2 linked regions of the Homo sapiens genome follow. The protein of the gene in region 1 purifies or fractionates together with the protein of each later gene. This does not show direct contact. Each region holds a gene or a part of one and is shown on either strand. Other genes may lie near its edges. The genes, in order: ADIPOR1 and TLR4.

Region 1 (3,824 bases):
GACATTTTCTTCCAGAAGAAAAGACAGAATTTCTGAAGAGTCCCAGTCCATAATTTTCCCAAAATGGTTGGAGGAGAGGGTAAAATCTCAACATGAGTTTCAAAGTACTGTCTCTGTGAGGGGCCGGTAGATGCCTTGCTGAGGAGGGGATGGCTAAGTTTGACCATGCCCCATCCCCAGCTAGGAGAATGGAAATGGAAAGTTTATTGCCCAGTGGGTGTGAAAGTGGGCTGAAGCTTGGTTGGTACTGAATTCTCTAAGAGGTTTCTTCTAGAAACAGACAACTCAGACTCTTCCTCTCACTTCAGCAAAGAAGTTATTTTTAAAAGCACTTGGGAAGTTCCTCCTCCACCCCGCAGGTGGGAAGGCTCAGAGAAGGGTGTCATCAGTACAGCCGCCTTCTAGGCCGTAACGGAATTCCTGAAGGTTGGAGACTCCATAGAAGTGGACAAAGGCTGCTGCCACCACCAGGACATGGAAAATCTGATGAGACTGGAACTGTAGGAATAAAAAGAAAAGAGCCTTTAGGATAATGCAAGGAGGAATAAGAAACAAGTAGGAGAAAGCATTTGCTTCTTCTAGTTTATCCTTAATTAAACAAATTTGTTAATAACATTAAAGTGGTATATTTAGAAAGTTTTAAAAACACAGTCCTTGTCAGAGATACACCAAAATGTTAATATTGATGATTTACCTTCAATGCACATATATGTACCTCCAAACACTATATGATCCCAGTCTCATACCACCTTTTCCTCAGCCCTTTAACTTTGGGCTGTTCACTCACCATCACAGGACCTGCTGGAAGATTCATTTCTTACCCATATGTCAAATTTTCCAGGAAAGAAGCGCTCAGGAATTCGAGCAGCATAAAGGCCAGCTCCAGTGATGTACATCACAGCCATGAGGAAGAACCAGCCCATCTGGCCCACTGTGGTGGCCTTGACAAAGCCCTCAGCGATAGTAAAGTGCATGGTGGGCACGACGCCACTCAAGCCAAGTCCCAGGAACACGCCTGAACAGAACAGACATAAGACTGTCAAACAAGGAAACAGCCACCGCATGGAAGGCACTGCTGTCTTACTCTGGAATTTCAATGTTTATGATAATTAGCTATTTTTGGATGAATAGTACATGTTTAGGAAACTTAGCTACAAGATGGATAACACTCAACAGATATTTCTTCTATGTCCTGAATGGGAAGAAGCTGTGTAAGTGCTTACTACCTTTTAAGCACCAAGAACAAAGATCTCATATTCTTCATTATCTGTTAAGGAATTTAGGTAAAAATGGTATGTCAAGACTCTCTGATGGCTAACTTGGGTACAGAACTTAGATGTCAAGGCTTCAGTTGCCTCCCAAGTCAGAGAAGCATAGGATAGGCTTCCTGTTAAGATCATAAAAGTCTTACATAACCAGAACTCTGACCTCCTGAGTAGACAGATATACCCAGATTAGCAGTTATCCTGTAGCTGCTGGGACACACAAGTAAGGCAAGAGCAAGGGAAGAATGGGTATGTGTCTCATCATTACACTACACATAACTGAAGGGCAGGGACCACCTCTCCATCTTTGTAAATACCTTTGTTTAAGCACAGTGCATGGCACGTGGCTGGTGCTTGATAAATATTTAATTATTATTATTTTTTTCTTTTCTTTCTTTCTTTCTTTTTTTTTTTTGAGATAGAGTCTTGCTTTGTTGCCCAGGCTGGAGTGCAGTGGCGTGATCTTGGCTCACTACAACCTCTGCCCCCGACCAGGTTCAAGTGATTCTCCCGCCTCAGCCTCTCAAGTAGCTGGAATTACAGGCACCTGCCACAACGCCGACTAATTTTTATATTTTAAATAAAAACAGGGTTTTACCATGTCGGCCAGGCTGGTCTCAAACTCCTGACTTCAAGTGATCCGCCTGCCTCGGCCCCCCAAAGTGCTGGGATTACAGGCGTGAGCCACTGCTCCCGGACAATATTTAATTATTTTAACTGAAGGTTAAAACATAGCAGATATTAATTGTAAAGGGACTAAAGACTAGTGGTAATTGGTGGTGTTGCTGCAAGTAATAAAAGCTTAAAATAAGAGTCCAGATGAGATGAGACAACACAAAGATGTTTATGCTTGTAGCTATTACTTTGTTACCTGTTTATGCTCAAGGTATTTTCATTCACCAAACCAGGTATTCCATTCCCTTAGTAAAATGCCTCTGAGTGTTTTAATTTTAATCCCTTGGTCTGAGCTTGGGACTCGGGTCACTAAAATTACTGTGCTTGCTACATTTTTAAACTGTCACAAACCAAGTATAAGAGTAGCTACATCTGTGCTTGCAGTTAATTGACCAGCTGGGTAATGATCTGTCCTATTGGCATTCTACTGAAATAGTATGACACTGGGGGTTGAGAACTGAGCTTTGAAATTGATGCTGTTTTGAAAGTTCTGAAACACAAATCAGGGTTTGGGTGGGGTTCTCAAGCTGCAAACCTTAAGGCTCAAATAGGTTTGAGCCTATCAGGCCTAAGGTCTAAATACCTCTGAGGTGTACGTACATCTTCCGACCTACCTGCTCTTGTCTGCCGGTGCTTAGGAGTGGCAAACCGGTCCCACTGCGCCACAATGATGGCAGAAATGCCCAGGACACAGACGATGGAGAGGTAGATGAGCCGTGGCTGTGGGGAGCAGTAGAAGGAATAATAGAGCCAGGGGACAAAGCTCCCCATAATTAGAAGAGCAATCCCTGAATAGTCCAGTCTAAAAAGAACCACAAAAATGAAACAAATCAGTGGGGGAAATGAATTTGTATGGCTCATTTAACTAGCTCTTTCTGTTCTCCACCTGCTCCCAGATTTAACCATTCCCTCAATCTATCCTGTATTGTAGACTCCCATACAATCTATCCTGTATTCTGGATTAAAATTCCACAAGGTCACTTCTATTTTACGATGGAAAAATCTCTAAGAATCCCCATTCAAAGAACTCTATCCCTTTCCCTTACTAGTGAACAGCCGTATCTCCCATAGTAGACACTTGAATTTAGAAATTCCATCACAATCCAGCTGGTTCCCAGCATCACACTCAGGAAAGGCTTTGAAAATTCTCCTATTCTGATAGAATGAGTTCTAAAAACAAAATTCTTAAATTGGGAGTAGTATTAAGGGATACTCTAGCTTTTTCTATCTTAGTTGACTTTTTAAATGAGGAAAATGTACCTTCTTACTGGTGTTGTTAGAAAAAACAAAATAATACACCACTGTCGCCACCAAAACCAACAATAACAACAAAAACAAGCAAACAAATAGAACCTCAGGCTCACGGCTGGGCAAGAGAGAAAGCACACGATGATGGACATCTGGAGCTTCCAGCAATGCATGGGCAGCAAAGATAAGCTTTACTTGACTGCTGGGTAGGAGCACCAGCAGAATGAAGCATAGACTATTTACCACACCCTACTTTGGCTTGGGCTAATAGTAAGTTACGCTTGTACAAGGTCTTGGAAAGCAGCCAGTGCACTGGCACTCTAAGCCTCACAAAAGATAGTGCTTTTCAGGTAGAAAATATATTCCACAATTGGTCTCTCCATCTGTTGAAGAGGATGCAGTAAGTCTGTTCATGAAGTGTTTAAGAGAAAAGCTTCATCACCCCACTATCGCCACAGAACAGAGAGCCTTTCCTCTGGCATATCAAGAAACCTTTAGGAGTGATATGAGCTCCTATCACCCAGTAAGCACTGGGATCTCAAGATGTGACAACAGTGCACAGTATTTTCCTATGGTGTTCTTTTAACTCACTTGGAAAAAGTCCGAGAGACTTTCTCTGAATGACAATAGACGGTG
Region 2 (3,824 bases), on another chromosome or scaffold:
AAGTGTGGTTCTATTCATATTTGAATATGAATTCTGCATAAGTGTGTTTATTCAAGCAAATGTACAAGGCTCTGAGAAGGAAGATCAACATACAACTTGGAATATTTCAAGGCCGAAATATTCAAGGCTGACATTGGCCTCCTTCCTATCAGTTCCCTCTCCCAGATGGAAATTCTAGAAATGGCAGGTGAGGTGGACAAGCAGGGAAAGAAATTATATGCATAGAACAGAAGGAGAAGAAAGAGTAAAGTCAGGCCTCAGCCAGCCTCTTTTTAGCTCTTTAAATCCTCTGGATTTAAGAGGGATAAAGGGTGGAATAAGGATAAATTAATGCCAATTGTAATGCCTTAAATTTGTGTGATACCTTACAACTTGAAACATATTCACAAAACTATATATTTGAATATCTCATTAGCTGAGTAAGGTAGCAAATCATAATTAACTTTTTCCATTTTATTGATGGGAAAGCTGAAGTTCAATGAAGTAAATTTTTCAATAGCCCACAGAGTAGGAAAGTGACAAAACCTGAGCCTGGGCCTCCAGGTCACTCAAGGACACTTTCTTTCTTCCACACCCAATTGCTTCATGCTTAAAGTTGGCAAAACAGGAAGTGAAACTCCTGCAGTTTTCTGTGTGGTTGACACTAGCAAGGGTTTCTCAGTTGAAGCCATGAATCATTAAGCCAATACATATGCATATATGTTATACATACCAAATGATTTATTTATAACCCTATCTTTCCATAAAGGACTTGAAGGAGCTTCAAACAAAGGATATGTGAACAATAGGGTTAATCAATAATAAGTAGAAAATCTGGACATAGAATAAAAAGAGGAGAGAAAGACACCGAGAATGAGCGTTAATACAGTGCTTTCCATTTTTCTGGTGTTTTGAGTAGCGTGGCTTTTGGAGAAAGCCAAAACTCAAATTCACTCCTTATCAACTGTGTGCCTTGGGCTCCATTTCTCTGAGAGTCTACTTAGCTCCAATGTAAAATAAGAATAGAACTATGACTTTGTAAGGTTGCTCTAAGGATTGAAAATCATGTATTATGTTCAATACGGGGACACTGTCCTTATGGGTGAGTACTCCCCTAAGACTTTATTAAGAGGGCACTAGGAGAAGCACTGGGAGGTCTTCTCAGTAACAACACTAAAGTAATTGCTATTTTTCCAGCCTGTGGAACCACAGAAGTGACTGTAACTAAAATTAGACATTTCTTTCTGATTCATTCTCTACTCACGGGATTGTCAGACCCCAGTCTTCTTCTGGACTCTATAAACTTTTTAGAAATCATCAGCAGGCTCCTGGAGAAGCTTAAATGAACTCACACAATATGTGACAGTGAACTCCCTGGGAGAGTGAAAACCAAAGTCTAAGCCAGTGTCTCCATTTACTTGTGTGATTGTGGGCAAGTCATTCAAGTGCTTTGAGGCTCAGGTCTTAATTCATGAAATGGAGGTAATAATACCTTGTTGGCAGACCTCACTTGGTTAAAATGATAATGTTGATAGTTACAATAGTTACATTTAATTGATCAATTGTTTTATGCAAGGGCTTTATTTGTGCTATCTCAGTTTGTCACATCAATGAATTAGAAAGATACGAAAGTATTTCCAATTTACAAATGAGGAGTCTGAGTCTGGGAGTCATTCTGTCATGTGTCCACTGTCACCTGCTCATTGGTGGCAGCACTGAGATTAGGATCTAAGTCCACTTCACCGCAGAAGCAGGGCTTCTAAATACTGTTCTATGGCAAGAGCACCCTGCTCTCACAAAATGCATAAAACTTCCTATCTCACCATTATAATTTTGACTGATATTAAACAAAGAGAAGTATTATTATTATTACTTGTTTTTATTTATATTACAGCTGTAAGAGCCAGGAAAAATGTGATCTAAGTTATGTGATCAAAGATTTTTTAACAGTGAACAAATCAGGCCCACTAGATGATGGCCTTTCTTTGAACAACATGCCTAGGGTTGCTCTATCATGTCTACAGTTGGTCTGACTTCCTGACGGGCATCACAGACTTGTGATTAAACACAGAGGTTATGGGGGAAGTTCCAAAAGCTTAGGACTTTCCAGATGGTTGGAATAAGATCACACACTCTGGCTGCCCTTATGGAGATCACCGAACTTTTCAACTCAAAGTAAAATCTGTGGAGTAAATGGTCGATCAAAAGGAACCAACTATATTGAGCACCATGCGTGATCATCTGATCGTTACTGCTACCTTGTGAGTTAAAGGCTACTCTTCTCATTTTAGAAATGAGAAAAGAGATGCCCAGAGAGGACGAGTAACTTGCCTTAGGTCACACAGCTTATATTAATCACAATAACATTTGCCGCACCTTCTGTATTTTTTTTAAGTTGCTAAGCTTTTGGTGCATGTCTGGCACCGTTTTAGTTGTATATTATTTCATTTAATTGTTAAAATGACCTTCTGATGCAGGTATTTGTAGCTTTGCCATTCCACAGATGAAGAAACAGATGAAAGGACTGAATTGTTCAATAGGAAGGAGCAGAATCAGGATATGAACTTGGGTTGGCCTGATTCTTGGGGCTGCATTCTTTCCATAACATAATTGCTTGCTGTGATGTCCTGGGCTACTCTGCCAGGGGTGGTTAGTGGAGTGAATGGAGAATAATTTAGACAAGGTCAGTAACTCCCATGCCATCTAGAAATTAAAAGTTTAAAAGGCAGAGTCTGCAACTCTCCTTGATTTCTACAGAAATAAAGATGATCCCTCCTGTGACAGTGCTAAGTGACAATTCTGAGTGTAAATGCGCTTTTTGGCACAAATTGTCCTGTCCTAATAGTCTTGATTATAATTATAAAATAATGGGTTTCTGAAAGGCTGCAAGCAGTTCTGGGAATGGCAATAAAGGTTTAGAAATGACGTGATGTTTATGAGAGAAGTGTTTTGTTGAAAATTAAACTCACGTTTAGGAGAAAGGATTGTGTTGTATGCTCCTAGGAAACTATCTCACTATGTAATTAAATCAAAACCAGCCAGTTACCAATTTGAGCTCTTGACTCATACTAACAACACCCCATTTCCCATGGGCCAAGCAAGGCAGGACTGACCTGAAATAACCCAGCCTGACTCTATCCACAGCCACCCCAGGACCTTGCCCCTCCGTCTTCCTAGGGCTCGGCCGTGAGATGCTAGTGCATGACCCTTCCTCTTCCTGGGACTGTCCTTGTCTTTCCCTTTGGACTCTGGGAGGTCTGTTCTCCTCCTCAGAAAGGAATAAACACTCTTTCTATTTGTGGGATTCCCTAGGAGACACTATATAAAAATATAGAGTTAAAAAAACTATTTAAAAAAAAGACAACTTCATGTCTCTACTCTGACTTCATTCTTTTTAAGATGGGTAACAAAGACTCTCTTCAAGGTTAGAAAATTTTATTTTAATTTTTATAGATTTAGAGAGTGCAAATGCAGTTTTGTTACATGAATATATTGCATAATGGTTTAGTCTGGGCTGTTAGCGTAACCATCAACTGAACAGTGTACTTTGTACCTATTAGGTACTTTCTCATCCCTTAACCCCTTCCCACCTTTCTGAGTCCTCAATGTCTGTTATTTCATTCTCCATGTCCATGTCTACAAATTATTTAGTTTCCACTCATAAGTGAGAGCATGGATGGAACTGGAGAAGAGTATTTTCTATCCCAAGATCGGTTCCTTGATCTTGTGTCTCCAAATCACTTGCTCTCTCTCTTACATCTTTTCTATCTTCTTCTAGCCTCTTTTTGCAAACTTCATTTTGACAAAGAATTCCAGGCAGTCTACAGCTGATTTTATTTCAATAC

What was found.
Region 2: the proteins of ADIPOR1 (region 1) and TLR4 purify together in Homo sapiens (co-immunoprecipitation; one study listed by IntAct). This does not show direct contact.

Annotation. Positions count from the first base shown.
Region 1 is NC_000001.11:202,941,204-202,945,027, forward strand, and holds part of ADIPOR1 (adiponectin receptor protein 1), read right to left. Parts: coding exon 3,780-3,824; intron 2,743-3,779; coding exon 2,555-2,742; intron 1,016-2,554; coding exon 822-1,015; intron 499-821; coding exon 370-498; 3' UTR 1-369. UniProt on the Homo sapiens protein: Receptor for ADIPOQ, an essential hormone secreted by adipocytes that regulates glucose and lipid metabolism. Required for normal glucose and fat homeostasis and for maintaining a normal body weight.
Region 2 is NC_000009.12:117,717,671-117,721,494, forward strand, and holds part of TLR4 (toll-like receptor 4 isoform A precursor), read left to right. Parts: 3' UTR 1-3,824.